Regions from separate parts of the Homo sapiens genome. Here region 2 is linked to region 1. The links come from fine-mapping of genetic effects on gene expression. A gene starts in region 1. The other region holds a variant in brackets. All regions are shown on one strand. Distances are from middle to middle.

What was found.
Region 2: its variant is fine-mapped to the expression of KIF16B in lung (TOPMed, PIP 0.92).

What each region holds. Positions count from the first base shown.
Region 1 is chr20:16,565,475-16,581,790 of GRCh38, forward strand. It overlaps KIF16B (kinesin family member 16B), which reads right to left and starts at 7,974. Exons shown (of 26, transcript NM_024704.5): 1 at 7,755-7,974. The coding sequence starts at 7,801. LOC124904875 (a long non-coding RNA gene) reads left to right here and starts at 9,829. Exons shown (of 2, transcript XR_007067539.1): 1 at 9,829-10,253; 2 at 13,405-13,885. RefSeq lists enhancers at 7,731-8,252, 15,902-16,071 and silencers at 7,865-8,094, 7,881-8,010.
Region 2 is chr20:16,264,056-16,281,262 of GRCh38, forward strand. It overlaps KIF16B (kinesin family member 16B), which reads right to left. Exons shown (of 26, transcript NM_024704.5): 26 at 8,049-9,356. The coding sequence ends at 9,198. Among named protein-coding and RNA genes, the nearest start is that of KIF16B, 300 kb to the right of the region's middle. The variant A/T (reference allele first, on the strand shown) is at 8,122.

The DNA.
Region 1 (16,316 bases):
CACTTGGAGAATCACTGTTTTACAAAACAGAACCTGAGCCTTAAAGAGGAAAATCAACTTGCCCAGTCACTCGGCTAGCCCACTGAAGAGCTCCAGCCTGAACCCGGCTCATGCAGCACTGCTGTTACCCTTTCTCTTTCTGCTTTACCCTTCCTGAGAGACAGAATTCACTTCCACCACAGCAACTATCACCTTCCAGTGACCCATCTGCAAATGCGCATCCGCAGAGCTGATAACTCACCTGAGTTTCTACTGCCCGGAGTTCCCACCAGCACCCCGAAACAAATCAACAGACCAACACGCCCTTCTACCCACCCCAACCCGCGTAGGGCCAGCATCACTGCCTTTGGGAAAGGTCATTCTTCCACTTAATAAGGCCCCAAGCCACTCAGAGTCATCTTTGACTCCCCACTTCTCTATGTCCTGCTGACTGGTCTTTAGAATGTCTCTTGCAACTGCAAAAAGCAGGATATAGAAGTGTGTACATGACGACGTTCCTACACAAACAGGAAAAAGACTAGGTGCAAACGCACCAAAAGTTTATGAGTAGTTAGCTCCAGATCGTGGGATTATGAGCAATTTGCGATTTGATTTCTTCGGTATATTTTTCTGCATAACACATACGTTTCATAAGCATACATTATTTTCATAATCAGAAAATACAGTGATTGCTTCTTCAGGGCTTTGTTTATAAGTTTTGTCCCTTGCCTCTGCCTTTTCCAATTATAACCATGCCCAGAATCCAATCGCCATGGGTCATATTTCAGTTCTCTTTACTGTCTTCCTGCACTGGTTGTCAGCACTCAGACAGACATCTTGAACCTCAGTCTTGCGTCACGGAGTGGTGGCAGGAAAGTCAGGGAGATAATAATGCATAAAAGGCACTTTGCACAGCCCTTGGCAAATGGTAAATAAAAGTTCACCATTACTGGTGCTAGTATTATTATTTCCCTACACTACTATTAGATGAAACTTCAGAAAACACTAATTGGCGAAAGACAGCCCTGTTTTAGAACCATCAGTAGCTCACAATGCCTAATAATATACCTGATATTTACAGAACGCTTACTTTTGGGCCCAGCACTGTACGAAATGCTACCTCATTAAATTACCATTCCAGCCCCACGAGGTGGGTCCTATGGAGATCTCCATTTTACAGATGAAGAAACTGAGGCACAGACATGTTCAATAAAGTGCCAAGGTATGGAGGTAGAAAGTAAAAGAGCTGGAATTCAAGCCTTTATTCAGACTTGCTGCACAAGAGAATTTTCCAGGATGGTGGATATATTTATATCTACATTATTGAATATGTGTCTGTTGAGCATTTGAAATGTGCCTAATGCAATTAACTAAAATCCTTTTTTTATTTTATTTTATGTTAACTTAAATAGTCACATAGGTGGCCGACAGTTATACTGGCCAGCATAGGGATCTAGAGATCAAAAACCCAAATGCCCAGGCTTCACAAAGAAAAGTCCTCACAACACCCTGTCTACCTGCCTTGCAACTAATTCTTACAAAATCTTCAATTTGTCTAAAATCATTAGTGAAATAAACATGTTCCTACCTTCCAACCACCCCCTGCCCACCTCTCAACTAAGTCTTCTGTATAATGAAAGGACTTTAGGAAGTTAGAGTAGGGGAGACTTGGATTCAAATCCAGCATCATAGTATCTAGCTATGTGACCTTGGGCGGTCTTATTTCTTATTTCTGAATAAGAGACCTCCTTATTACAGTCTCTGAGCCCTTGTTCCTCATCTGTAGAATGGGCTGACAATGCCAACTTCCAAAGAGTATCAGCCAAGCACCTAACAGAAATTATCTATATGGTCGCTGGCAATATCCCTTCAGGGCTCAACTCAAGTTCCACCCTCTTATCTAAAGAGATGGCAGAAGCACTGGAGATCTCTTCCTCTAGCCTCTAGAATCCCCTAGAGGTTCCATCTCAACCGTACACAGATTCTATTGTTATTTTTGTGTGTTGTGTATTCTCTGATCGGCATTTCCCTGAGGCCATGGGCTTCTGTCATCTGTAAGCCCAGAGGCAACGTCACTACATAAAGGGCTCTGAAGGGAACCGAAGCAGCTGGCTCAACCCAGCATTATTATCTGAGGGGTCTCAGTCTCCCCTGGCTTTTATAGGTCAGTCAATTGGTGAGAGGAGGAAATGCAATTGCCAAGGTAAAGAAATAAGCATAGGGCTGGCAGCTCACGCCTGTAATACCAGCACTTGGGGAGGCTGAGGCGGGCGGATCATGAGGTCGGGAGATCAAGACCATCCTGGCTAACACAGTGAAACCCTGTCTCTACTAAAAATACAAACAAAATTAGCCGGGCGTGGTGGCGGGCGCCTGTAGTCCCAGCTACTCGGGAGGCTGAGGCAGGAGAATGGCATGAACCCGGGAGGCGGAGCTTGCAGTGAACCGAGATCGCGCCACTGCACTCCAGCCTGGGCAACAGAGCGAGACTTCGTCTCAAAAAAAAGAAATAAGTGTAGTACCTGGTACCTGGCAGTGCCTTGACAGATACTTCCCGTCCTTAATACAAGACATGTCTGTCCTCATCATCACAGACCTAAGAGGCTAACCATGAACTACTTTCCCTTTGACCTATCTTCTTTTTAAAAGAGGAAGACGTCAGTACACCCTAAAGATATCAAATCCAGGCAAAATGCCACTGGTGGTTTTTTTTCTTCTTTTTCTCTCCTGAACTTGATAGACTTGATACTAGATTCTACCTGAGAGGCTAATCAGGAAGAAAGGCTAGGAACAGTCAGAAAAGAGAAAGAATGGGGTGGATTTGCCCTATCAGATAAGCAAGCACATTATACAACATAGCTATAAAGCTGGCACATCACCAGCACTCAGTAAATATTTTTTGGCATTTTTTAAATACTTGTTTTTGAATAAAGTTACAATTATTAAACTGTAAAAATAATAGTAATGACAACAAGCACTCTTCAGGGAGCCCCTGCTGAATGCCAGGCTCTGTGTGGAGAGCTTTATCCACATGCGTTATCTCACTTGAACCCACAACAGTGTTTTTCACACCCAACTGCAGCTCTTTCGTGGATCACACCTGTAATCCCAGCATTCTGGGAGGCCAAGGTGGGAGGATCACTTGAGCCCAGGAGTTTGAGACCAGCCTGGGCGACACAGGGAGACCCCGTCTCTACAAATAATTTTAAAAATTAGCCAAGTGTGGTGGTGTGCACCAATAGTCCCAGCTACTCAGGAGCCTGAGGCAGGGAGATCACCTGAGCCCACCAGGAGGTTGAGGCTTCAGTGAGCCACGACTCTGCGCCACTGCACTCTAGCCTAGACAACAGGGTAAGACCCTGTCTCAAAAAAAAAAAAAAAAAAAAAAAAAAAAAAAAAGGCATAGCTGTGACTGTCTTAAGAAACTGACTTTGACTTTGAGCAAGTTAACTATGTGCTATGATCTGAATGTTTGTCTCCCCCTAAAATTCAAATATTGAAACCTAACCCCTCACTGAGATAGTATTAAGAGGTAGGGCCTTTGGGAGGTGATTAGGTCATGAGGTCCTTGTGAATGGGATTAGTACCCTTATAAAACAGGCCCAAGGGAGTCTGTTTGCTCCTGCCACGTGAGTACACAGCAAGAACCTACCATGTATGAGGACCTGGCTCTCAGAAGACAGCCAGACAGCCTATCTGCTGGCACCTTGATCTTGGATATCCCAAGCTTCAGAACTACGAGAAGTAAATGCTTGTTGTTTATAAGCCACCCAGTTTACAGTATTTTGTTAGAGCAGTCCAAACACACTAAGAAACTCTGTCTCCCAATCTGTAAAATGGCATAACAATAATGTCTCTACCTGCCAAGATGGCTGCAAAGATTAAACTGGATTTTGTACCTGGAGCTAGGACCAGAGAGTCTGGCACAGAGTCAAGTCTCAATAAAGGTGGCTACCATTTTGCCTACGTAACAGAATCACTTCCGCATTTGAAATGAGTATTACTGCCACATAATTGAAAGCCATAAGGCAATAAAAATAAACTCATCACATCTTGGCCTGAATCAAGCACTCATATTCCTTACAAGGCTGACTGATTACTGCAAAGGCCCCTAGTTTAGAAACTCAGTCAAACTCAATACTCCACCACCAGCAGTCCTTACTTTCCAATAACTCTGGGACTTGTTTTTCTGTAGGTTGCTTTCCCTTTGCCTGAGGCTCCACTACTCTAAAAATAAACATTAAAAACATTAACAACTTCCTTCAATCCTCCTCACAACCAACTGAAACTTCTCCAGTGCCAATGAATTTTGTAGGTGACTTTTTAAAATTACCTAAATAAGCACTGCTGGGTTAATAATTAATTCTAAGTATTAATTATAAAACTACGCATGAGGAAAGTAAAAACAAACAGTAAAAAAAAAGCCTTTCATCTTTGCCTAATGGATTCATCATCAGTCCTCCTCTTTAGAGGTATCAGTGTTAGGTTTCTTACAAACCATTACATATAGATGAATCTGTGTGTGTGTGTGTGTGTGTGTGTACATTTGTTAGCACACACAAACACACAACTTTACTCCACTGTGGATATCTTGCTTTTCTCAATCCTCTACCTTGGAACTCTTTTAAGATCAACACCCTCTTTTTAAGACTTGCATAATAATCCACCAAATGATTTACGCTATAACTTAACAAATTTCCCAATTTTGTATATTAAGGTCACTTATGATTTTTTGTTATCAATGATGATGCAAAAATCATCATCTTTACACATATATCTTTGTAGGCAGCAATATAATCCATATAATAAAAATTAGAAATTAGAAAAAGTAGAAATGAAATGGTCAAATCAAAAAGTTTATAGATTTCCAATTTTTTAAGGGAAGCATTTTCTGCTTAAGTATACAGATTTCTAATCTTGACAGCTACTGTCAAATTTCCCAATATGAAAGTTTCAGATGTTTTGATCCCTTATGCTTCCGTGATCAATGCAGAGGCGTCTGTTTCATCACTCCTGTACCAGCAATTGGTGCTCAGTTAATATTTATCAATCTCACTGGTAAAAAAATGGCATTTTATCACTATTATAGTATGCATGTCTTTCCTTATAAATTAGGTCAAGTATATTCAGTTGCCAATTTATATATCTCTTTCTACTCACTGCCAACTTCTGAATCATTGACTCTCCTTAAAAGTACTGTTGGGAAGGTTATCAACTAGCCTTGTCTTCAAGACCAAGGACACCATCTTATTCTCATCATCCTGGCAATATTTGACACTAACCCCCACCACCTCCTTCAGGATGCTCTTCTCCCTTTCCTGCCATGACCATTTGCTGTGCTGGTTCTCCTTTACGGACTGCAAGCCAATCTTCTCCCTGAAATCCTAAAGAGGGGCATATCCCAATGTCCAATCCCTGGCTCCCTTTTCTTCTCACGTAACATCCTTAAATTGTGGTTTATGTGCAAAAGATTTCCAAATGTCGATCCTCAAATCACCTGAGACCTAAACCCACATTTTCAGCTTTCTGCTGAACATCTCTAGCAGAGGGATGGATGTCCTTCCCACACTTCAGATAATGAACAAGGTCAACATGCGTGAAACACTTGCTCTGTGCTTGTACTTGACACTTAATACATCTCATGTAACTCTCCACATCCAAGAGAGAACATACCAACTTCATTGTCCACCTTCCTCAAACCTGTTCACCTCCTTCAGCATCAAACCTCAGTTAATGACTCTACACTCGCATTCTTCCCCCTTCTTCCCATCCAGTGAGCTGCCAAATCCTGCCAATTCTGCCAGTGAGTGGTCTTCCTGTAACTATCCTGCCTTCCAATTTCATCTCTGGCTCAAACTGCTAATCACCTGCCTCTTACCTCAATCTTGACACCACCAGAGTTCTCTACTGAGAATATAAATAACATCACGCGAATCTGCCTCCCCAAAGCCCATGGCCTCTGGACTTATTTCCTGCCATCCCTCCATGTACCTGGGCTCCAGGCCTACACTGGCAAGGCACTGAACTCACAGTTCCTGTCCCAGCAGGCCCAATACTTCACAAGATTCATGCCAGTACATAATCCCTCTCTCACCATGGCTCACCAGGTCTCATTCCCCTTGTATCCCAGACAGCACCCTGAGGAATGCTATGTGTTTGGTAGGTGCTTAACAAATACTTTTTTTTTTTTTTTTGAGAGGGAGTCTCGCTCTGTCACTGATGCTGGAGTGCAGAGGCACGGTGTCGGCTCACTGCCAGCTCTGCCTCCTGGGTTCACACCATTCTCCTGCCTCAACCTCACGAGTAGCTGGGACTACAGGCGTCCACCACCACGCCCGGCTAATTTTTTGTAGTTTTAGTAGAGAAGGGGTTTCACCGTGTTAGCCAGGATGGTCTCCATCTCTTGACCTTGTGATCCGCCCGCCTCGGCCTCCCAAAGTGGCTCCCAGGCATGAGCCACCGCGCCCAGCCTAACAAATACTTTCTAAAGTTACACAATACAATTTTCTAGCATGTGTTCACCTTTTTCCAAAAAAGAAAAAGAACTTCTATACACATGAAAATCCATAATAAAGAAAAATCGTTCTAAAGTTTATCTTCTATGATGGAATGTACACAGAAACAAAAATATTCCCTTAGAGCAAAAAAGTCAAACTCTTACTCTAAACAGCTTTAGAAATAACTCAAAAGTCACAAAAAGCAGATTCTGAAAACACTGGGTTTTAATGATTACAAACCAAAATAATGATTCCCTACTTGCCAAGAGAAGAAACAGATTTAGATGAGTCAAATAAGGTTCTGGAAATCTTTTGATTTTATGGCCTTCGGCTGCCCCAATCAGGCATCAGAACTACCAAACATTAACCTCCACAAGTTGATATGACAAAAGCAAAAAGGCCCTATGGTAAGTCAAATATCCACCAACTTGGTAGAGAAGTCAATAAAATCAAATGGCTCTGTGTGAACCTTGCCTGTCACCTTGGAGGACACATCCCATTTCTACCTCATTCTTTGAAGTCAAACCAATTTAAAAAGTAACTTTTCCAAAGAAACTTTCTAAACGGATTAAAAAGAGGTCATTGAAAAGGGAGCACAGGCTATTTTTCAGTGAATGAAGAGAAGGATTCTGAAAAAGCATTACTTCGTAGAAATATATAACAAGATTAAATTTTGTGTGTAACACTCTTCCTCTCTCTTAATATCAGAGTATTTCAAACACGTGTAAAGCGTCCCTGACTTTTTTCTAGGAGTCAGGACTTTGTCAAAGTTTTCCCATCCACTCTCTAACATGAAGTTAGGAACTGCTAAGTTATCGATTAGACATTCAGGGAATCAAAATCATCTCTAACTGAAAGATTAAAAAGTAGCATGGTTAATTGTTAAGAGAACTTCTGAGTTGGTAGAAATGAGGGGTTCACCTGACAGTTCGTGGTGCCCCCCCTCAGCACTCTCACCTTCCCCCCAACTATTTTACATCTTCATGGTAACGTTCCCTTGATGCTTTTTTAAAGGGGGAACAAGAACATCTCAAGTTAATACGATGGAGAGAGTTAATAGAATCTTCTCCTTTACCACCAGGGTCCTCTCCAGGGCAATGTGAACGGGACAGCAGTGCACGAAGTCCTCCAGGCCCCCAGAGGCCACAGCCTGGGCCCGGTGGGCCAGGGACCAGCCGGTGACACTTTTAAGTCCAGGCTGGCTTTGGGGGAGCTGGAAACAGGCTTCCTCTGGGTGGGGGCGCGACGAGGGGGCGGGGCGCGGGCGGCCCCACTCACCTGCGATTCATGGGCCGGACCCTCACGGCCACCTTGACCGATGCCATCGCTCATCCCGAACCAGCCCGCGCGGGGTCCCACTAGCCCAGAACTCCGCGGTCGCCGGCGACGCTGGCTACTCAGATCGCGGCTCCCGCCCACTTCCCTCTCGCCCCCGCCCCTCTGCTCCCGGCCGGACCTGGAGTTCCGCGGCAGCCCCACCTGCCAGGCCACTGAGCATGCCCAGAACGGCTCCGGCCCGCGTGATCCATGCGCCACGGTTTGGCGGCGGCCGGGCGGTGCAGAGGGGCGGGGCCGCGGGGCCTGGAAGCAGCCTCCGGGATCTGCAAGTCTGGAAAGGCCACGTTGTGGACCTTGGCGCAGAGGTTATGGGGGCGACCCGGAGCGGATGGTTTCAGGAAAACTAGAACCCACCCTCATGGCCTGAACAACTGGAGAGAAGAGGATCGCAGCAATTTAAAGCCAGCGGCAAGGATCACAGTCCTGGGGTCAGGTGACCAAAGCCAGTTTTTCAGCCCTTAACAAGAACCTGGCTTCACCCAGCCAAACATGAGTTAACGTATCCATTTTACACACGAACAAACTGAGGCGCAGAGATGATCACAGCTTGTTGGTGGCAAACTCCGCTAGGGCCTTCTCTGCTACCCTAAGGAGGTCCGACCGTATGTTTTGGACCCCTTAACTCGGGATACCGATAAACGAAAATTAATAGGGTGTTGGATGTTTTAAATGTGTGCGGGAATGTCATTATATTGGCTAGAATCAAACCTTATTTAGACTTGTTTTGCACTTTTGTACACTTTAGTAATTTTTAGTTTTAATCATAAGGGAGTTAAAGGCGAACACAACTGGTATTTTTTTTTTTTTTTTTTTTTTTTTGAGACAGGGTCTCGCTCGGTCACCCAGGCTGGAGTGTAATGCTGCGATCTCGGCTCACTGCAACGTCCGCCTCCCGGGTTCAAGAGATTCTCCTGCCTCAGCCTCCCGAATAGCTGGGCGTGCCACCACGCCCGGCTGATTTTTGTATTTTTAGTAGAGACGGGGTTTCACCATGTTGGCCAGGTTGGTCTCGAACTCCTGACCTCAAATGATCCGCCCGCCTTGGCCTCCCAGAATGCTGGGATTACAGGCGTGAGCCACCGCGCCAGGCCGACAACTGGTATCTTAAGGCTTAGGGCCTCTGGTAGAAGTGAGCTCCACCTCCCTTCCTGTGTAGAAGGTAAATGCATTCATTCATTCAGTGAATCGAGCATGCATGAAATCGTTTGCGCACACCCAGAAGCCCACCTGCGAGCCACAGGAGCAGCCATTCCAGGAAGCCAAGCTATAATGGGAGACGCAAGGAATGGAGGCGGAACTCCTGTTTTTAAGTCCTAGCTCCAACACTAGCCTTGTCAGCCTGTAATTCTGAATTACTGGGCGCCTCTGAGGCTTCTTGTCTCATCTGCAAATCAGGAACAACGGCATAGAGTGGTGAATGCATCAAGTGGGATGATGTCTGCAAGTACGCAACCCGCTTACACAAAGAATTATCTTTCCATAACCTTCCCTGGACCCCTAGGGCCAGCAGGGAATCATAGCCTCCCTTTGTTTCTAGAGCCCGGAAATCACTGGGTTTTCCCTCTGTCTGGAGCAGAGCTGGGTGCGAATTTGACCAACGGGTGGCAGGAACAGCCGGAGCAGGATATTAAGGAGCGGGCGAGCTTGCCAAGCATGCGCAGTAGCGGCGGGTTGGTTTGAGAAGCCGCCAGGGAGCCAGCGCGGCGACCTAGCTGGCTGGGGCAGGGGAGGGGCCCGCCTTATATGGGAGCTGCGTGGGGACAAACTGTTCGGGCCCAACGCGCGGGTCTGAGAGACAGCCACGCCTGCTCCGGGTCACTCCGGCCACCTGGGGGGCGTCGGCGCGCAGACTCTGGCCAGTTCAGTATTCAAACTCTTCAGGAGTGCTAACTTACTCATGACAGCGATTTTCTGTATCGGGGTTTCATTGGTCGGTGGTTTAGAAGGTTTTGCTCATTCATTCGTTAATGTAATTCCAACAACCTACACGTGTTTATAAGCCCCCTTTCCATCCACGACTTTGCTGTCTGACACAAAACGGACCATCGCAGCCCGGCAGACGCTTTAGACAACAAACAGCATGCCTGGAGCTTTTCAATAGGAAGCAGTAAGGCTTGATCATCACAGACGATACGGAACGGGCACTTTCTTAGCAGAAAATATTTCTATTGGGGCGTGAAGGAAGTTTCTGAAAGGGAAGATTATTATAAGATAAGGGGTTTGCTCATCTCAGACTTTAGTGTGCCTGCTTTAAAGTGTTTTGCAAACTTGAATGTTTAAAGGAATCACCTGGCGGTCTTGTGAAACTGCAGCTTCTAATGGGCAAGTCAGAGGGGAAGCCTGAGACATGGCATTTCCAGCACGTTCGGGGAGTGAAGATGCTGTCGGCTGCCACCCTCCCTGCAAGGAGCCAGGGGATAGATGACCTCTACGCAAACTGTGAGAGCTTAAAATAACTGATAGTGAAAAACAGTTACAGAAGCTCTAGGCCGGGCACGGTGGCTAATGCCTGTAATCCCAGCACTTTGGGAGGCCGAGGAGGATGGATTGCCAGAACTCAGGAGTTTGAGACCAGCCTGGGCAACACGGTAAAACCCTGTCTCTACGACAAAATAAAACAAACAAAAATAAAAGCCACGCATGGTGGCGTGTGCTTGTAGTCCCAGCTACTCAGGAGGCTCAGGTGGGACAATCGCTTGAGCATGGAAGGAGGAGGTTGCAGTGAGCCAAGATCGCACCACTGTACTCCAACCTGAGTGACAGAGTGAGACCCAATCTCAAAAAAAAAAAAAAGCAGTAAATCCAGGGCCCAAAAGGTCAGTAAGAATTCAGGGATCCAAATCAGTTATGTACTGATGCATAAAAATAATGGCCAAAAATGTGGAGGCTTAAAACAAAAACCGGTTATTATTTCTCTCAATTCTTTGGGTTGCTGGTGTCACCCGGGCTTTGTGGCTGGGCTCTAGGCTCACCTGGGGTGAGGAAAAGTTGGTGCATTTTGCTTTTTCATCCTCAAAAAGTTTAGACCAGGTTCCAGATTTCTTGCGGCGGCGAGACACCTCGCCAGGAGAGCACCGCACTATGCACAAGCCTTTGCTGGACTTCCATTGACCAAAGGCAGTCACATGGTCACGCCCAGGCAATGTGGGAGGGCCCCGCAAAGGAGGGGTGGGTACTCAAGAGAGCCACTAAATAACAAACCTACCTTAAGATCACATTTATTTCTAACATTTTAATAGTTATAGTTCAGTATAATTGATTTTCCTGGTAATCCCATTTATTTTATTTTATGCATTTTAAAATGTTATTCTGAAAATGTTACTCTCACCAAACAACCAAAAGGGTCCACGGCATAAAAAAGGTTTAAGAATCTATGATTTTAAAATTCAATTGGATGGATAAAAGACATTTTTATTTTTATTGTGTATATATACATATATATGTGTGTATATATATATATATATATATATATATATATATTTTTTTTTTTTTTTTTTTTTTTTTTTTTTTTTGAGACAGAGTTTTGCTCTTGTTGCCCAGGCTGGAGTGCAGTGGCGCGATCTCGGCTCACTGCAACCTCCACCTTCCGGTTTCAAGCGATTCTCCTGCCTCAGCCTCCTGAGTAGCTGGGATTACAGGTGCCCACCACCAAGCCCGGCTAATTTTTGTATTTTTAGTAGAGATGGGGGGTTTCACCATGTTGGACAGGCTGATCTCGAACTCCTGACCTCGTGATCCACCCACCTCTGCCTCCCAAGGTGCTGGGATTACAGGCGTGAGCCACCAAGCCCGGCCGACATTTTTATTTTCTAAGAAGGTTGAATTGTGATGGGAAGGAGAAGAGAAAATTCTGAAATCTGGGTTAAAACCCAAATGGTCTCAAGATGCATATGTGCATGGCGGGACTGTGGGGTGGGGGATGTGGTTGTTTAGTTTGTTTTGATGTAGTTTATTTTGGTCTTCATTTATTATTGAAATTTTTTTCTGATGTTTAGCAATCTCTTTTTTAAAACGTTTTTTCAAATCTTTTTTTAATCTCTATTTTGAAAACTTTTTTAATGGACGAAAACTTTTGAGTGACTTAAGCTCTCTGAGTCTTAGCTTCTTCATTTCCACGCAAAATAGCACTGTAATAGAATGTTCACTCCACCGCAAAATATTTGAATCATCAGGGAATACTGTTATCAGAAGAAAAATACTGTATTTCTCATGAGCTGTGCTTTTTCTTCATCCTAGCCTCTGAGGAATAAAATTGATTTACTTTCTTACAAACATGACTTTTAAAAAATCTTGATGAACATCAGACTGGCACGCTTAAATTGGGACGAAGGATATAACTGACACCTCATAAACCCATCGATTTCCCTATGTGCTAGAAGCACTCACCAGAAGCATTATATCACATGATACACTTAGTGTCTCCTACAGGAGTGCCTTACACCAAGGGACTTAAGTTGAATTTAAGAGCTATGTGGTGAGCCAATGAGAAAAACAAGTGTTTTCCTGGTTTTCAAATAAATGTATAATAAATAGTAGTACCAGAGACAGGAATCACAGATACCAAGTCCAAACCCAGCACCAATTTTTTTTTTTTTTTTTTTTTTTTTGATACAGAGTCTTGTTCTGTCCCCCACGCTGGAGTCCAGTGGCGCTATTTTGGCTCACTGCAACCTCCACCTCCCGGGTTCAAGTGATTCTCCTGCCTCAGCCTCCCAAGCTGCTGAGATTACAGGTGCCTGCCACCACACCTGGCTAATTTTTGTATTTTTAATAGAGACAGGATTTCACCATGTTGGCCAGGCTGGTCTCAAACTCCTGGCCTGAAGTGATTCACCTGCTTTGGCCTCCCAAAGTGCTGGGGTTACAGGTGTGAGCCACTGCGTCTGGCCTACGATTTTCATTTTCTAAGTCACAAAATTTAAAGTATATTTAGAATCTTCTAAAATACTAAACATTAAAAGCAGGAATAATTTGAAAAAGTATACTTTGGGGCTAGAGAGAAAATCTGAGCTCCAAAATCACAGTAAAGATAATTGCAAAAATCGTACTAAGTAATTTTAGTAAAGCTTTAGGCAGGTAACCATGAATGCCTGCTTTCTTTTATAGCAAAAGTGAATAAAGAAATCACATTAGATTCAATTTAATAGACGCTATCACCCTAAATCATAGTCATTTTATATACTAAGATAAAAATGATTGTTTTCAATTGCATATAACTGTATGCAACCATATATATAAAACTATGTGGTCATAAATAGTTCAGAACTGATAGACTGTAGAGTCTGTGGCCTCATTTTAACTTCGAAAGAGTGAGAAACCATGTTTATTTAAAGTGATTGGGAAAAGTTTCATGGATGAATTAGTTTTGGAGATCGGTCTTGCAGGAGGGACAGATTTGAACCCAGAAAATGGTGAGGAGGTGACTTCTAAAGCAGAGGAAATTCCTTGAACAAATGTTTAGTGTTGGAAAAGCGAGTCCTGCTTCTGGAATAGTGAGAAAGCCTCTTTACCTGAAGCACAGTGTAAAGTTTAAAAATAGTTGTAAATGCTTCTCTTCCCTGGACTCATACCTTGCGATGTCATTTTGCAGCTCCCCTCAATGGGAAGTAGAATCTCTTTCTCCACCTCTTCAATATGGCTGGCCCTGGAACTTCCCTTGGCACACAGAATGCAGCAGAATTGGCTTCATGTTGTTTCTAAGCCTTGGCCTCAGAGGCCTTGCATGCTTCCTAACCCTGGCTCTAGGAAACTTGCTGCTGTCATGTAAGCAAGCCCAGGCTAACCTACTGAATGTTGGTGTGTCCCAGTCAAATCCAGCACTGCAACCAATAGCCAGGCAGCCACCAGACATGTGAGTGGGGCCACCTCACACCAGCCAACCTCCACCAAGTCATCAGATGTATGAGTGAGAACAGCCCAGAACAACTGAGCCCGTCCAGACCAGCGGAACAACCAAGCTGACCAGTAGACTTAGGAGCAGTAAACAGATGATTGTTATGGAAGCCATTCTGTTTAGGGTGTGTGTGTTATTGCTTGCATCCAAATACATCCTATCTCATCTAATGAGAAAAGGCCCTGCTCAAGGGCTTTTGCAGCTGTAGTTGGGCGCCGGAAGTGTCTTTGTGGTCATTTCTTACTCCATACACGGGGAGATCAAGGCTCAGACCAGGTAGTGTGACTGTGGACAACACTTTCCTTACCCCTCTGTGACACTTAAATCAATGAAGCAGATTCACAGAAGCATGCATGCTCACTGAACACAGTATTTGCATTCCTACCTCCAAACCTTTGCTCCACCCATGCATCCAGTAAGAATGCCTACTTCCCTCCTCTCCTCCATCGAGTTCTTTCTTTGAGTTCTACCTTCCCTAGTCTTCCTCCACTGCACCAACCCACGGTGATCCCTGTCTCTTCCAAATGCTTTGTAACATGGTAGGCATCACTCACTTGTGACTCATTGGACCATTTTAAAACTTGGTTTTCTGTGTCTCTTTTCCAACAAAATTACAAATTCTTTGAGGGTAAAAGTCAGGCCTAATAGTTCTCTGTACTCCTAGTAGTGCCAGTGTGGTAAAAATTTAACTTGACAATTAGCAAAACCAATAAATTCCTTACACTATTCTGTTCCTGTAGGTAATCAGTATATGAATATGGATTCCTATGTGATGATTTTCTGGTCTATTTTGTCCCTTTTTTTTTTTTGTTACTTTAACCAGGCCATAACATAAAGGTTATGCCATTTGTTACTGTCAAGCTTAATTAAGCCCATTATAATTCGTTAACCCCTGTGCTTGCTTTGTAATTAACATTGATTAACACAAACAAGTACAAAATAGGCCATCAGCACTTTCCAGAAGTGCTGATTACAATTACATTGGTAATTCAATACGGTATAGAAGATGGCAGGATAGTAACTTGCACTCTGTTTACATAAGGAGACAAATGCTACCATGCAAAACTAAGCCAAGAAACAAAATACTTTCCTCATCCAACTCACTGATTAAACCCTTACCCTGTTAACTCACCCTATGACTGTGTAAACCTCCAGTAAGATTATTGAAGGCACAGCTCCAAGTAACTTGCTTAATTGCATTCCTGGGACAAAAGAGGGAAGCGCTTCAAAGCTGACAGACAGATGGTAGAGTGTCCAGTCACAGCAAAGCAGGCCCCGAGGCTCATGACAGACAACTCCAGGGCTGAGATCTCATTTGTAGCTCTGGGATAAAGTCCAGGGTTTGATGGCAGCAGGCTGAAGTGTAAAGATGCTCAACAATGCGCACCCCAGAGACACTGAATCTGAAAAAGCTTAGAGTGAATAAAAATCTGGAAATGAACTCTGTCTGTCTATTCACCATTCCCCCCATAAAAAAATTCCTATATTCCGGATGGTGTTCAAGTTCCCTTTCCACAGGACCTCAGCAGTCAGGGAGGTGCTCCTGCAATCTATGTGAAGGAGATTTCACCATGCCCACATGGGAATACAGTAGATTGCCAGTAGGGATGCCACACCTTTGCATTTCCTCGTATTTCCAGGAACAAAGCTGGGGTGCCTAGGAGCTGCAGCAGTTTTTCTTCTGTGTAAAATAAGCAAGCAGGACTCTGCCCCACTGCACTCCAGGGAAGGATTAAGAGAATTGATATCATCCAAATCAATTGGCCCTGTGCAGATGACTTGATAATGAGGCCATTGAGTTTTTATGGTTCACTATTATTGCTACAAAAATTATGCTGCAGAAATCATTCAAATGCTCAAAAAGGAGCATTAGTACGAAACTGGGTGTTCCAAAGTTGTTGCTGAGAGGTGTGTAATGTTCCTGAAGATCCCCAAGGCACTAAGACTTCTCTGTACATGAATGACTCATAGAGAAGAAATACACCAGATGAAAATATATGGAGAAGTTTGCCGAATGTCATATAACTTGTAAGTATTAGAGCCGAGGTCTGAACCCTGATATCTGTGTCCTTATAGCTCAGGCCTTTTCCTTCAGCCCCTCCTTCTCAGCAGAGATGTGTTGGAGAAATCACTAGAAATGGAAGAGCAGCTGTCAGAAGCAGAATTGAATGAAGTGATAGGGGAAAAACATACATGTTGATACAAATGGTCAGCCTTAAGCAAGACTGTGACATTGATGCAGCACAGGGAAGCCTCAAAATTGGGACTTAGCCCAGGAGGGTTCTTGGCTTCACCCAGGAAAGAATTCAAGGGTGAGCTGGTGGTGTTAGAATGCAACTATTACTGAAGTGGCAGTGTACGGCAGTAGCAGAGGCACTGCTTGCGGAGCAGGGATACCCCAGAGGCACTGTGCCCAGAGTAGCAGCTCAGAGGCAGTTCTGCACTCATATTTATATCCACTTTTAATTATATGCAAATTAAGGGGTGGTTTATGCAGAAATGTCTAGGAAAGTGTGGTAACTTCTGGGTTGTTGGGTTGTTGCCATGGAAAGGGGTGATAACTTCTGGATGTTGCCATGGCACACTGATGGGTGTGCCTTATGGAAAGC
Region 2 (17,207 bases), 300 kb before region 1:
GTGCCCTGACCCTCAGAGATGCCAGCACACCCCTTCAGGGGCCGTGGTCCCAGCCCCACAAGACCCCTCCTTCAGCTCAGAGACACCAGCACCAGCGGCTGATGTCCCCTCCTCCAGGGTGGCCTAGTTTCAGTGCTGTGGGGGCTTTTCCTCCATGTTTCTGCATATTAATAATTCCATGCTCCCCCAGCCCTAAGGGAGGCAGCTGCTTCCCAGTTATAACCTCCATGACAATTTGGAGTTCTTGTATTTTTTCCCCTTTTCAGTTAACTGTAATTATTTTAAATTCTCTTTAAGAAAACAACTGGTGTGACTTCTACCTCCTGCCTCACCCATGACTGATGTACTCAGTGTTTTTCTCTAATCCAGGCAGTGGCAGGGAGCCTGGAGTTAACAGAATGTTGAGACTCAGGTCCCAATTAGCTCTGTCACTTGGGTAAGTCAGAACCTCCTTCAGATGGTTTTACCTTTAGAGATCATTTTACATTAGATTTTGAATGGTGGCCATGGGCAGAGTGCAGCCTGTGTATGTGACAGCCTGTGTCCAGAGCCTAGGTGGACACTCTTATTATGCAACCTGAATTTCTTTCGGTGGAGCGCGTCTTCCCCATTTGCATCTATAATGTCTGTCTAGCCCCCGAATGGCCCCTGGATCCAGATTGTTTTCAAGGCTCCTTCTAGCTCTGACATTCTTTTGTTTCCAGCCAGGTGCAATGCTGTCCTGCTCATGACCTGTGCTTTTGCTGGGAGCTTGGAGAATGTCTCACAAGGCAGTATAAGTGATGTAATTGCTCCCAGTCACAGATAAATGCAAGAAATAACTGGTCCCCCGTCCCCTGTCTTGGTCACTCTGAGAAGTGCAGACTCCCGGGAGGTATAAAACAACATGCTAAAGTTGTGCTCTTTGGGGTCCTTAGGGGCTGTAGCCCATTCCTCATCTGCAGTGGTTATTGCCTTACCAGCAGATTTGCTGGAACAAATGGAGACTTTTCCCTTGACTCGAGCGTGCAACAAGAGGCTTGGCCACTGGTGGAAGAACGGTTGTAGTTTTCTGGGAAACTAATAGGGCTCCTGCCACCTCTAACCATCATCAGGATCCCTGCCTAGCTCATCAAGATTGCACCCCGTGTGTAAGGAAGTGGCATGTGGAGATGATGTGGCATCCTACTTGATGTCAAAAAGTAGCATCACGTGCAGCTGGAAAGCCCTACAGAGTCCAGCTCCTCCTTCCTCTTGCTTTTAACTTCAATAGATTTGTCCCTGGGCAAGAGCTACTCAGAGAGACTGCCTTTGAAGGATCTTCACTTCCACCAAAATAAACCCTTGCTTTAGTATACACTCTGAGAAAGAAGGCCTTTGAGGTGGAACAGCTGTGAGCATTGTCAGCATAAAGGAGAAGGTGTGTGGGCCTGGCTGTTTGGGAAACACAGAGGCTGCAGTGAAGCTAGGTACCCCTCTCCCTGCCTGAGCACGACCTGCCACCCGCATCCTGCTGCAACTTCTCCTCACCTGAGATACGTCCTCGCCCCTCAGGGCCTCTTGCTTGTGTGGGAAGCTGTCACTGGCTGCAACCACGGCCAGTGGCAATCTGTGCCCCATTGGTGAAGATGCCATTGGGAGGGACTAGGAGGACCTTTTCTGCTTGCACCAAACTGAGAAGTTAGTTCACTAAATGTTCTAGTGAATTAACACATGAAGCACAATTGTCCTTTTGACTAACAGCACTGAGTTCATACAAACTGGACCATGCTGAAATTTTTTGGAGGCCCTAGGTTAGGAGTATTGTTACTGAAATGCCAGGGTTTTGGTCTAGGTCCTGTTGCTTACTGCACAGAAAGCCAATCACTGAGATGAGTACTGCCAGGGAAGAAGGCTTTAATTGAATGCTTCAGCAGAGGAAATGGGAGATCAGTCTCAAATCCATTTTCCTGATTGACTAAAATTAGGGATTTATATAGCAGGGAAGAAATGTAGCCATGAAACAGAAATTAGGGAGAGGCAAGGAAGAGGGGTTGTTCAACAGGAAGCAGGTGATCACTTGGGTAGTCATGCTGGGTGAGGGGTCTACGTCTCATGGTCCAGATGTGGTGCTCTGGTGAAGTCCAGCTTCTTGATGCCATCTGGGAGGTCTGATGGTTGGTTTCCTGAGAAAGGAACTCAGATAAGACAAATGTAACTTTCTCAAGTTTTAACTCTGGGAGGATCATTTTCTGTTTATTCAAAGAAATCATAGACATCAGTTCTATGGGACCACTGGGCTGGTTTCAGTATCAGCCTATGAGCCATGTGCTCCATAGAAACTGACCTGCTTCACTGAACCACACACACTTAGTGTGGCTGAGCTTTGTGTTCTATTCCAGCAAAGGGGTTCTCTGTAAACGCAAGGCATGGATTGAGCAACCCATTTCTGATGGCCCCACACAGACACATCATATTAACATTAATTTATAGGCCGTCCTGTTGAATCTAAAAACAATCTTTTCATTTATGGACGGTACCGAGATGATTATGTTGAGGCCCGGAAGGTACACAGATTATCTGATGCCCAGGCATCCTGGGCTTGAGGACACAATGCTTCTGTGCAGTTGCTGGTCTAAGTCATAAACTGAGCCCCACAGCTAGCACGTAGCTTTGTGACAGCTGTGTCTGCATGGGGCTTTTGTCTTCTATTCACAAAGCAAGGATTAGGTAGGAGCCCAAAGACAGGGCGGGAACTTTACTTGGGCCTGCTGGTGCTGCAGTACGTAAGTTGGACACACCGCAGCTGGGCATCTGAGGGTCTGAGGAGATGGTCCTTCTCCATGGCAAGAGCCTCTGAAATCTCAGAGCTCCAAACGCACCAAAGGTCAAAGAAAAAGAGCAGAACAGCCAGCCCCTGCATGGCGCAGGACAGCACTCTCCGCTGCGATCTTGTCCTTCCGTTGTTAATATTTAATTCAGAAGCTTGTTTCTTTCTCCCTATTATGTGGGACTTTGAAGGCTGAGTCTCAGCTGTCATATGCCCTTATCTCTCCTCCCCCAGAGATATCCTGAAACAGTGGTAGCTAATGGGAAAACATGATTCCCTTTACAAAATTCTGGTCAGCAACCTTTCAGGCGCCTTTAATCTGGCCTGTACCTGCCTCTCCAATCCCACGCTGCCCTGTTGTTCTCTTCATATCATAGCCAGGATGGGTGATTTCTGCCATTCAAGGTCTTTTCTCAATCTGGGGTGATCTCTCTGGCACTCAATTCTCATCTCTTAGGTCTCAGCCCAAACTTTGCTTGCCAGGGAGACTCTGAGCCTCCCAGACTAGAGCATTTCCCTAGCACATGCTCCCCAGCATCCTTGACTTTTCCATCATGACATGTATCACAATTTGCAGTCATACAGTTGTGCAATTATTGGTCCATGTCTTGAGTGGAATGGGAGCTCCCAGAGGGAAGACCTGTGGCCATGATGCCCACGCTGCCTACCGCTGCGTGTCCGGCACTGGGCCCTGGGCCACGATATAGAAGACATTCGTGAATGTGTGTTCATTGACTGAATGGTGGATTGCGGGTCCCTGATGAGGAGCCAACTCTTCTCTAACAAGGAGTAAGAAGGACACAGCCAGCTTGCTCTGCACTCTCTGTGCCATGCTCCTTCTCAACTAGGTGGCCAGTGGAGCCACAAGAATGGCCAGAGTTCCTTCCCCTCTCCCACTGCAGGAGGAAGAGCTGGGGAGGCGGCCATGACATGAATCAACACAGGTGGCTTCAAGTAGGGCAAGTGTCCTCCATTCCTTATGAACTTTCTCAGGCCACCTTCAAATACCCTTGTCATCTCACTGTCTTTGTCCCTCCCAACTCCCAGCCCCCAGCCCCCAAGGGTTACAGAGTGAGAGAGGGGCCATGGGGATGGCAGGCAGGGAAGAATGGCACACGGCGTATGCTCACGAGATGAGGACCCAAGCTGGGGAGCAGGCTTGAGGTGTGCGGTAGAAGATCCTGGCTGGCACCGGTGTCTTCTGGGCAGAGCTGTACACACGGGCAAGTCTTCCGATGCCCAACTCGTCCAAGTTCTTCGGATAAGAAGTCTGAAAGAATACTCCAGTTCCCAAACCCTGAAGGGAATGCTGCACTCCTTGACCAGAAATCCTTTACTAAAAACAAACTACACATAGGTGCGCTGAGAGACTGTTGCTCTAGAAGGCACTGAAAACCCTTCATAAATGTAAACACGGCCTTTCCCATTCACTTGTAAGGGATAAGTAGCCAGTATTTTAATCACTCTGCAGCTGAAGGCTTGCACCCACTGTGGGTCAACTCTTCGTATTACAGTCATTGAAATCAAACTTCAAACACCACACCAAAAAGTCATTTGTGATGGCAGGCCACCCCACTCCTTTCTCATGGCTTCTAGCTTGTTTTTAGGAGAAAAGCTAACAGAGTTTAGAAATCAACCAAAGTGCAATTTTTTTTAAACCCTTAATTACCACAAACTGGTATTTCTTATTGTTTTCTGTGATTCTTTTCTCTGGAGATTGTCCCGGCAGCTTTGACAGAGCAGTTGCAGCCCACCCTCCTTCCTTCCTTCTGCAAGAGTGGGAAGGAACGCTGGAGTCACAGGAATAGCAAACCCCGAGGCTGTTCTCCAGTGAGATGCTCTCAGGCACAACTGTAAGTGCTACTGGAAAGACACAAACACTTCTGCAAATGTTAATTGTGCATAAGAATACTGGACACTTTGAGGAAAAGAATTCTGCTTTCAAGCAGTGATGTTTAATTATATTTTTCACATTTTCCCCACAGGATTTAATTTCTGGAGGAAGGCTTCCCTCTTTCTGGTGATATGTCTTGATGTTACCAAACCATTTCCTATATTTAATCTTGTGGGGCTTTCTGCATTTTCATTTATGCATTTCCCATTTTGTACCCAGTGCACTTCCCCATCTTTGATGCTTAGCGAAAGATAGCTTGTGCATCTTTTTGCAAACATATCCATTTGTCTCTCTCTGAATGGGGAAGAATCTGCCTTTTCGGCAATGGAGAAGGGGAAAACCAAGTCAATGAACTTCAAATTCGCAGTGTTTGGAGAGGTAATCCTTAGGAAAAAACCTCATTATTTCATTTTCAAATACAAGAGTATATTTCAAATGAGGACAGTCAAAGAAAGGATGTTTTGCATTTAGTCAATTTTGCAAGAGTCACACAGGAGACAGCTTTCTAGAAAGGCATGGGGTAACCTTGGGAGATGTGCCACAGCCTAGTGCCCAGAGTTCCCGGATGGTAAGTGCACGCATGTGCTATTTGCAGGTAACAAGGATGAACTCACATCCTTCAACCCCTTCAGTTCAGTCAACTGCCTTTTTGCTCCTTCTACCATTTTAAAGTTTAACAGGGTTCTACTGGATCCCAAATTATCATTCTCAAGGTAACACCCTGGTCAACATTAACATCACCCCTCTAACTCAAAGGTACCACTACGGGATCAATTTGAAACAGGATGCTTCAGAAATTTGTAATAATGGGCAACTTTTGTCAATTTGGAAATAATTCCCTATGTGCAAAGTTCAAAATTGTGTACCACAGAATCATTTCCTATCTAATGAACTGTCATCAGTAAAAGCAGTCTCAACAGAAAAAAAACCAAAAACCAAAAAACAAACAAACAAAAAAAAAACCAAGAAAGTCAATAGCCAGGTCTTCTTGCATGTGAAAAAGGAGGAATACACAAGGTTTAATTTGCGAGAATGAGTCTCTGTAGATTAATGGTCTTTAATTAGTTTTCCCAAAACCTAAATCACCTGTCATGATAAGCTAAGTAAAACTAAAGCAGTTAATTTTGCCATCTCACTGTCCTTGTCCCTTCCAGCCCCTAGTTAATTTTGCCATGGATTTATTTTGCCTAACTTTTCTACTCCCCTTCTTTTATTTAACATGAAAAAAGAAAGACCTTTCTGATAAAGTCGGATCTGAATCACTCCTATAGGTGTGTGTCAGATTATGGAAGGAGAAGGGTCTCCTGCGGCAGAGACGTTCAACTGTCAACTGATGACACCTCAAGGCAACATTTTAATCAAGGCAACATTTTAGGCATTTATAAACGTCAGTGTACTTGAAAACCTAATGCTACTGTTTGAAGCATGTCAGGCCTGAAGCGCTATGCACATTCTCTTTGAGGGGACAAGGCAAGCCTGTGGCAGGCTCAGAGTATCAGTAAGGAGCCACATCCCCTTAGCACGTGGCTCTGCATCCCTGACTGCGCACCTGAGGAAATGGGGTCTTGTGGTTTTGTGCTGCAGGAGATGTGTCCAGAAAAAAAAAAATCTTGTCTTTAAAAGTTGAATACAGAACACCAACGTGACCCTGCACCACAGCTGCTCCCCAAGGGTGCCTCCACCTCTGAGTCTATGGCATGTTCTAGCCGTGAAAGCTTTTGGCTGCTTCTGCTCAGACTTGGACACATATGCTGTCTACAGCTCTGAGTAGATCAGGGACCAAATTGGGCAGAACTAGCTCTTTCTGCATAGAATTGTAAATAGAATCGGCCCTGGGGTGGGATACCCTGTTTGTGTATCTTCAAATCATCCCCCATTATGAGCCACAGAATCTTCTAGATGTCAGTCATTGGGGAAGCCAGCATGACTTGGTTACTCCCTATTCATATGCCAAAATTAATCACGAGGTTAAATGTGAATCTTTCTAATTCAGCAATAGCAAGGTCTGAGTGGGAACTGGGCGGAAGGTTACAATACCAGTGATATCAACAAATTTGGTGCACATATTTATCATGCAAGCAAGACCTAGGAGTGAATGTCAAAACTACTTAAATAAAAAATTGTTTAAGTTCCTTAGATTTGTCCAACCGACTGCAAAAGTATTTATGTTCATGACACTTCAATTTGAATTGCCTAAAGTGGTCAGCTTGGCGTTACTTTGTTATTTGATGACTTGGAAGTAATAAAATATCCATTTGCTAATTTTCTTTCACTCTTTTAAATTAGTCCAAATCAATGGAGTTTCCATTTGTTATCCTAATTCTGTCATCTGTCTTATCTTCACTCCAGAAAGGAATTCTGTTGTTTAGATGTGACTTTTCATTTGCTTTTCAACTTTCCCTCATGTTTTATTCAGAATCAGCTGCCTTTAAATCAGATTGGAAGTATGTACTTCACGTACACATATGAGGGACTGTAATGAGTCCGAATGACATGGTTTATTCCTCTGCTGTAACCATGAGCTGGAATGAAACTCAAGAGACCATCCAGTACCACAGCTTCATTTTCAGATGGACAGACTGAGGCCTAGAGAGGCAAAACGACTCCCATGTTATGACCGGCCTTGGCCAGAGCTTGCTAGTAGTACTCAAACTCCAAACTCAACTATAATTACTTAAGGTGAGGATTAGAATAGAAGGATCTTCTGATTTCAGCACTTCTTACAAACACATGTCTATTTATTCTTGCCAAACCTTCTGTGTGATTTTAACAAAATGCTTACCAGGAGCCTAGTCTCCAATACCGGCCTCAAAGGCCAAGAGATAGATTATCTGGTCAGTTTGAAGAGAAACCACTTAGTTTACTCAGCAAATGAGGGACCATCTTTAGGGCTTAAGACTCCTCTTAAATAAATGACCTATGGTTAATTATTATCTACCCAGCTCTTATCCCTTAATCTCTAGTTTGAAATTCTCTGGTAGTAATTGCTCCTAAACCTATTCCTGTAATCACAACTGCAGACAAAAGCAGGTCCTTCTGCAGCAAAAATGTCCTCATTTTTTTTCACACTATACTATGATATTTAATTAGTGCAATACTAGTTTTCCTCCTTATAGGGATAATTGCACGTTTATGCATATTTTTCAGGTTGGAGAACTTTGTTGTGAAGGCATTCTCTAGAAGATGGAATGCAAACATGTTCTGTTAACCATTCATTTACGACTTCAATCATTACTATCACTGCATCTTCTGCAACACAAATGCTGAGTTATACATTATGCATATTTCCAAGAACATTAGATCAATGTTTAAACAGACTAGTATGAATGATCATGTTACAGACTTAAAATAAGCTGAGCTACAGGGTAGATGCCATAACTTCATTTAATATTGATAGCAGCTCAATTTAAATTTTGAAAAAGCAAATACATTTAATAAA[A/T]TTGGTGTGAATTATTACATATTTTGATGGAACTACTGTACAGAATGTATACATATATAAATCTATAGATAGAATTATATACATTTGAGTATATACCACATACATATTTTTTCCACTCACATTTTTCTCTTTAGTAAAACAAAGCAGTTTTACTGTACACAGAAGTGCAATGCTACATTAAGTCCTGAGTAATTTAAGGTATCATTAATAAACTGCTATAAATTCTAGTTTTCCAGCCAAAGATCCAATAGATTCTGTAACAAAAAATGTGAATAATACTTAAAAATATGCATTTAGCTTTGCGTTCATTTTGTGCTTAGCAGAAAAAGCTCAAGAATGCACAGTAGCCATTTAGATTTGGGAGAATGTTCTTGAATATTCAAGGTTAAATAAATATCCTAATTGTAGGGATTTATAGAAGTTTTAAGTAATGTTGTCTACATCCAATTTGTCAAGCATGGAAGACTACAGTCATGATTGGATCAAAAAATCCCTTTTGCAGAATATGAAATTCTGTGTAAACATCAGTGTTTGGGTTTTATATAAAAGTTCTGATTCAAATGAGGGAAAAAAAGAAAAAAATACAATGAAATAATTTAAAATGCTTTTCTTGGAATATAGCCAGCCACATGGAAGAAATATAAAAAATACGAGTATATTTTGGTGAAAGAGGAAACCAGATGAAAGTCATTTAAGGGTGGTCTGGTAAGCCACCCACTTTGGGAGGTCCCAGGCTGGCTGGGCTCAGGGAACCCACGATGGCCCAACCACATCTATCTTGCCACAGGGGACGAACTTTGCTGCGCAGTGAGAAGGAAGCACTGTGGGAAAAGGCCACGTTCAACCGCAATGGAACGGTAACGGCTGCCTGTCAGGGCCACATCAGCAGGCAGAGCATCCCATCCCCAAACTCAGGCACTAGGTATGGAAACGTGAGGTGGCCCGGGCCCGCTGCTGCATGTCTGTCTTCAGCAGGAGGAGGCAGACCCGGATCCTCGCATGGGGGAGCTGCCCTGCATCGGAGCCCGCTTCGACGAGAAGGCACTGCTGTGGTGGTTCCTCCATCACCCCTGGCTCTACCCCGTCCCGTGGCTGCTGTAGTCAAAGACTCCTTTCTTGAAGAATGGTGAAAACTCACAAATGGTATGTTTCGAGAGAGTCAGTCCCACTTTGTTGATGTGGAGGGGAGATGTTGCGGACTGGAGCATCACGCTGAAAAAGTCCCTGAGGTATTTCTGTGGAAGAGACAAGAGTTAAGAACATGGTCAATTGGGAGGTCAAGGCGGGTGGGATCGCTTGAGCTCAGGAGTTTGAGACCAGTCCAGGCAACATGGAGAAACCTCATCTCTACAAAAAATAAAGAAATTAGCTGGACAGGGTGGTGCACTGAGGCAGGAGGATCACTTGAGCCCAGGAGGTAGAGGCTGCAGTGAGCTGTGATGGTGCCACTGCACTCCTGCCTGGGTGATAAAGCAAGACCCTGTCTCAATCAATCAATCAATCAATCAATCAATCAATCAATCAGAATACGGTCAAGGTACTGTTGGATGGTGTCAAGAAGAGAAAAAATTTCCAGAAACAACTTCCCACCCACCTGGAAAGTGCTATCATTGTCATTAAAACCAGCACGTGAGGAATGCCCTCCACTGTCCCACCTATCATCAGACCAACCAGAGAAGACGGAGTCACAAAATACATATGCACAGAAGAAATATCTTTGGCTCAGCACTGATTCTGGGCAGCACTGTCTCAGATCTACAGCAGACAATGCCTAGGAAAATGTCAAGGGTGCCAGGCACAGGGGATCTGCCTCTCAGCCACAGTGTCACTAGTTAATCTCTTATTTAAAAAAGTCATTTCCTCCCCGCTCCCAGTTACTCATTAAATAGAAAGATGATTAAAAAAAAAAAACAAAAAAAAAAGGCCGGCCATCTGTACAAGGTTAAATGTGCTGCTTACTGGTATTTTAAAATTGCACAGTCAGTATCTGTTTTGAATCCTTCTTATAAAATAAAGGGAAAGCAATACTGAGGACAAGAGGGTCAGTTCCAAGTACTGATATTTACAGATCTTTTTGCATGTCCTATAATCATCAACAAAAAGGAATCCTTACTACAATTACTTGCTCCAGACCCCTGCTGCATGTTTGTTGCAACATTATCTGCCGTTTTTGGCACTGAGAAAGCAAAGCATATGTGAGACTAGGCTCTGGGAACTGGGGATAAAATCAGATGTGGGAGCTGGAGGGATGTGTTCAAGGAAAAGAGGGCACACAAGAATAGTTAATATATTTTAGGCCAGGCAAATCTCATCTGTAACAGAAAATGGGCTGGAGGGAAGGGGTTAGACCCAAACCTTTATTATTGTCTCAGTGTGCTTAAAAAACCCAAACAACCCTGGCACAGTCTTAGGAATTACACATAATAATTCTGGACTCTGAGTAACAACAAAAAATTTGTGAAAGCAACATGGCCTAAGCCTGGAGCAGTAGTTCCCAACAAGAGGCAGTTCTGCCCCATAGAGTGTTCAGCAGTGTTTGGTGGCAGTTTTGAGTGTCACATAGGGGTGCACAGGCAGTGCACCTGGTGGATGCTGGCCAGGGATGCCAAAGCACAGGACAAAGAATTATCTGGCCCAAATGTCGACGATGCCACAGTTGAGAAGAGAAAGTAGAATTTAGCTACCTCTATGAATTGCCAACCTGAAATTTCCTTCTGAAAGAAGACATTCTACTCAACGAGAATTTGTTAATTCTCCTTCAAAATATTAATGAGGACTACTAACAACAACACTTGTAAAATAACTTAGTTTCTAAAAATCTTCTAACATCCAATGTTTTACACTTAATGGAAGTAAAACTGGTGCATGATAAATTGTACTTTTTTTTTTTTTTTTGAGACGGAGTCTTGCTCTGTCTCCCAGGCTGCAGTGCAGTGGCGCGATCTCAGCTCACCACAACCTCTGTCTCCTGGGTTCAAGCAATTCTCCTGCCTCAGCCTCCTGAGTAGCTGGGACTACAGGCATGTGCCACCATGCCCAGCTAATTTTTTTGTATTTTTAGTAGAGACGGGGTTTCACCATGTTGGCCAGGCTGGTCTCAAATGCCTGACCTCAAATGATCCACCCCCCTTGGCCTCCCAAAGTATTGGGATTACAGGTGTGAGCCACTGCGCCCGGCCAGATAAACTGTACATTCTTTAAATGTATAACTTCATGAGTGCTGACCCATGTGAAACCACCATTAAATCAAGATAAATATTTGCATCCCCTTCAAAAGTTTCCTAAGGCACCTAACTTTATGTTATCCTTACACTTGGCCTGGAATCACATCTTCTTCTGGTATTACCCATTTCCTGGTAAGGAAGCTATTGCCAGGAGAGGTGAGCAAGGCTAGTAATCTAGAGAGAAGACTTGAAAGCAAGTATTCTCAACTCAAGATGTTTTTTCTTGTTCCATATCCCTAACTTACTGGTCTCATGGTACCCTCTCAAGAAACGATCCTGAAATTGAAATTAGGTATTGGTAAGAAGTTATGAAAATCAACTGCTGAAAAGTGAAGATCTTAATCTTAGTAATTATTTTTATCAGAGGGGCAAAGAGAGACCTGACTTCCACTTTTCTGCGGGAAGGGACCCTGAGAATATCAACTTTAAAGGGACTTGAATTGCATCAAACAGGGTCACCAGTATATATCGTAGACTACACTCAACCAGCCAATGCTCGCGGTGCAATGCATGTGCACAACTGATTGTTCTGGGAAGATCAAGGGTGAGATGATTTGGAAAACGGGAGATGCAGAGCTTGCTGACTTGTGCATGGAGCCACTGCTCTTTCACAGTTTAATGCATGATAGAGCAAGGCTCGCTGCACAGGCCTCATCTCAGGTAGCTCCTGTGGGCTCCGGCTTCAGGTCTCCCACAGGCTGCATTAACAGGCAGGCTGATGTTTACAGCAAAGCTGACTTCAAGATGAACTCTGACAGACTGGAAGGCAATTTAAATCTGGGAGCAGATGTTATATCAGCATTTGTCATAATTAGTACACAAAGTAGGGTCCCTATAAAGGGCCAATAAAGCCTAAAGGGTATAATAAGAAGAGAAGTAAAAGTTAAAAATATAAATGAAAGGAAAAGAGGAAGTATTTGAGACACCTCCCTTCAAGAGCACCACCATAAGAAGAGAACAATACAACTGTCAGGTAATGTCTTTTTCTTTAAATAAACTCATTAGTGTTGTTTGACAAAAACTCCAGATAGAATGATCTGATTTGACTAATTCTAAACATTACAGAAGAGTTTTCTCTTCGCAAAACAAATTTCTGCTTAAGGAGAATTAGGCAGCTTTCGCCTCCTTTACATAGCCTGCTTCCTTGGCGCAAAGAAATGATTTGATTAGGAAGCGTTCTTTGCAGCGACCTCAAAGTGCTCTAAAGTCTGTTAAGATGAGGCATGACCTTTGTTGGCCATGTCCAGAGCCACATGCTTCAAATGGGCTGAACAAATTCTGGCAAATGAAAAAAAAACAAGGGACTGGGGCTACAGCTGGGGACACAAGACAGAACTAGAATTCTAGAAAGTTCTTAAGGTCACAGACAGTGTCTCATTCTTCTCTGAAGCCCCCTATCATCCCTGGAACACTGCCAAGCTTAGGAAACGTGCTGAGAGGAAACCTTGCTGATTTTAATTAGTTATCTTTTTTTGAATTAAAGTATATGCACAGAAAACCACACACAAGTGTACAGTTGAATACAGTTTCACAAAGTTAATATATCTATGCCATCAGCATCTAGATATGAATTATACAACACTTCCAGCCCCCAGGCAGCCCTCCTCGTACTCCCTCCTCCGGTACAAACCTTCCCTCAAGGGCAATCGCTATTCTGATTTCTAGCACCAGAGATTCGAATTGCCAGTTTTTGAACTTCATATGAGCGGAATCATTTGGGATATACTCTTTTGTGTCTGGCTTCCATGGCTTAATGCCGTGTCTGTGAGATGCGGCCATGCTGTGCGCATAGCTGTGGTCTGTTGAGTACCAGCACTGTGCAGTACTTCACATCTGAACAAAACCACCGATTGGCTTTAACACAGGGATAAGCGTTGGTCACCGCTTTGGTCCTTTAGTCTGAACTCTTCTTCACTAATGAAATCTACTTCCCAATATTACTGGTGTCTGATGAGTCAAGTTTATCACTATCCTTCCAATAAAGAAGTTTCCTGTAGAGATTTACACTCAAATCTAAGCTTAGCCAATGTACTTGAACTCTGCTATTTTATGTACATATTATATATATATATATATATAAAATATTTAAAATATACATACTTACCTAACAACACACATTCATATTAGTAATTTTTATTGCCTGTGCTCACAATGTTTTCCACAGCATCTGTGGCTGAAGGGAGAAAATTAAAATCCCCCTGTCAAAGCTATCCCTTGTTGTTGACCCCAAAGTCACCGTAGCCCTCCCAGGATGTGAAAAATCAGTCCAGGTGTCAAGCTGCATCTCCCCAGGTCAGCACGCTTTATAAAAGAGCATTGCGAAAACTGAAGGATATTAGGAGTTTAAGTGACTTATCCAGGTCAGAAGGGCAAAGTGGGAAAAAGATTTGTGAAATCCAATATCCAATCTGTTTCTGACTTTCACAGGACATTTTCTCCATTATAAAAAGAAATAAAAGCAGGCGTATTTAAATCTCTAGCACGTCAGGGACCACAGAAGGCCTGCAGCTCTTGTTCACCTGGTGGACAGTGACACACCTGAGTCTTTGCTTTGTCAAATGTCCTGTGTCAGGGCCACTGAGAACAGCAAAAGCACCTCCTAGGGTTGCACAACATTATGGCCCTGACTTGGATAGTTGGAGGAGGAAAGTCAGATTAAACCAAATCTTCTTTCAATACGATTGCAAACCAGAAATAAGATGGGATGGCGGAGCCAAAGGGGGCCTAGGAGAGGGTCTGTCTGACAGTGAGTGATCATGGGAAAGAGAAGAGGCCGAGAGAGACAGGGGGCCACAGAGAGACAGAGGGGGCTGTCTAGGGGAGGACAAGAGAAACAGGGCTGGGATGGAGGGGAAGACAAAAGAGGTGGAAATGAAAAGGAAACCAAACCAGCACAACAACGTTGGAGACGGGTACCCATGATTTATTTGTTTACCAAGCTGGCAAAAAGAATTTAAGAATAATAAGAAATATATCAGATATCTATCTAGGTTATTTACTTTTTGTGACTTGGACCAATACTGATGTAGGTGTTTTCTTATCAATACTTTCAGAAAATCAAATTTAGATGGCTAATCTTTACGGTATATTTCAGTGCTGACATAGAGTACCTCGATTTCATGAATTGCCTTTCTTCTATAGGTTTTGGGCATATTTTGTTGCTCAGGGGCAGTGAGCAGGGGTTACAGGTAACTGGGAGACATGGACCCCCATGGGTCTGTTCCAAAGAAAGTGTGACCCTGGCACATGATGTTTAAAATCTCCCCAAAACAAACAAACACAAAATCCTGTACAGGACTATGAGCTTTTAAAGTGGAGGCCAGAAGACACGAGCAGAAGAAGGGGGGATGTGGTGATATGAGAGACACCCTAGACTCAGGCTCCTGCCTGCTACCCACAGCACCCGCCATCCCCTGCTTCTCAGTCAGGTCCCCTCTGCTGAGCCACACGGTCTCTCACCGGGCAAGTCTGTCTACACCGGGCATCTTAGCTGCTTGGGTCAGATGCACTGCCTTTCCTAGGCCTGATGGTGCTTTCGTGGGGACCAGCAGGCACTGGTTCTTCAGAGTTAAAAGTTCTTTACAAACACGGGGAAGGTCCTGTTTCTCTGCAAGGCTCACGCTCTTCTACAGGGAGCCAAGGCAGCTCAGGGAATGCTTCGGTATCTCCCTTACAGTGCCTTGGTGGGCACTGGCCATTCTCTGACTGCCCTGTACCCATTTCCCTTCCCAAACAGCAGCCCAATCCCCTTCTGAAGAAACACCTTTCCCCTCTCTGGGAATTGGTTAACTGGTTGACTTAAGGCATAGGACAGATAAGCTTTTCCCATGATATTCTGGGTGGACACCTTACAGCCAAAGAGCTAATCAAGCTACTAGCGCTTGGAGTCTCCTGGAACCAAGGGTCCTTTGGGGGACACCTCTTCCAGATTGTGTAGCTGCTGTTATGGAGCATTTTCAAGAGTTTGAGAAATTCAGGAAAGCTGGGCAGTTTCAGGAGAGCCTTTGGTCTCTGTCCATTCCCAAGGCTAGGAGCGAATGATTCCATCTGTTTACTGTGGTGACAGTCATTTTCTACTGTTTACCATCAAGTTAACTAACAATAATCTCACAGCGCTGGCAGGGGGCAGACAAGGGTCAGGAATCAGAAGAAACCTTCCTTGTAGAACACAATCAAGCTCCTCCAGGGCTAGTCTATGCTAAGATGGAGGTATCTGCCTATCACGCTCTTCTCTTAGGAAAAGGTCGATCCTAGGAGGCTCTGGAGAATCACATTTCAGATAGGTCAGAGTATCCCGGTGGTCCATCCACAGCTAGGCCTGAAGCTGGAAGGCTCCTGCCCCAGACCCTGATCTACACATAGCCCAATCTTTAAATTTCCAATGCCATTTCAAAAGACAACTACTAAACACTATCAATCTTTTGAACCAAAACACAGGCTAATATGGTCTACTGGCTGTGTTAATAAGTTGTGAAAGGCAAAATGAACTCCCTACAGCAATACAGAGTAATTCAGCAAGAATTTAGTCCATTATATTAGAGCTTTAGCATGGCACCTCAATTAGTTTATGCATCAGGAAAAAAAATTGAAAATATAATTTGCTGCTACATGCTATTCCATTTAGACATTCTTGAAGGTCATTATATTACTATGATTCATGTGTGACCTACAATACAATTTCAGTCTGAGCTCTGCCTGAAAGGAAACATGCTTTGGAGTTACTGGAAAAATGTGGGCAAAATCTGGCCTTTAGGCAGCTTCTTTTGGGTTTTTCTTTTGAACTGTAAATCTTTTGGGTGAAATGCTGGTTTGCTCACAGGAACTAACCATGGATTTCATAGTCCATCCTGGCAAAAACCTGTGAAGTCAACAAGGAGCTGCATGGTGTGGCTTCCCCCCTCTCTTACACCCATTCCCTTTTAGGTCTGTGACCTTGAAAGAAAGGACAATTTTAGACCAGGGGATGGAGGGAAGGAGGGGTGGTGTCCAAGTTCAGCTAACAGTCTGAGCAAGAGAGCAAGGCCAAGGCCAGCCTGTGCAAGGATCTGGGTGGGAAACAGCAGGATGTGAAGCAGAATGCAGAGGGCCTTGAATATGGATTCAGCCTGCAGGTACTTCGTACAAAGTTTCCGGTTCATGAGCTTATGTGAGCCCCTAAGACACCCTTAGGAGAGGGACAAGAATGGATGTCCTTTGTTTACAGAGGAAGTAACTGAGATTCCAAGGGGCAGTGACTTGGCTAAGGTCAACAGGTCATAAGAGGCTGACAAAGTGACCAGCTCTTCAAATGTAGGAGAAAGCCATTATTGCCTAATTTAATCCCGAAGGTTCAAGCCCGTAAGCCTGAAATGTAACATGGCCTTTCTTTGGGGCTGTCCATACTATGCACATGCAGCCTCCCAGAATTTTCCCTGAATTTCAGTCAACTGCTGCGCGCGCACGTGTGTGTGTGTGTGTGTGTGTGTGTGCGCAGAAAATGCAAGCATGAGAATTTGGGCCTTCAGATGCCTTTGAAAGACCTAAGCCTCCTTATCTGCTGGCTCTCTGCCTTCTATTTTAATTATCAGGGAGATAAAATTGTGACCATTTTATGTTATTAAAAAGTTTCTGTTTTAATAGGGCTCATGACTATAACTGCAGCCTACTGCTTATTTCATGTGCAATATATCACCTCATCCATATCATTCTAATGATTTTTCCGGCCATCTCATTGTTGTGAGGTCCTCTTTATTTTACAAAATTTTAACATAAATCTATAATTTAATTTAAAGTTACTGAAATTACTAAAATTGAAATGTTCTTTAAAAATATAATGGAACTTTATCCACCTTTCCATAGTGACATATTAACAGAGAAAGGAGT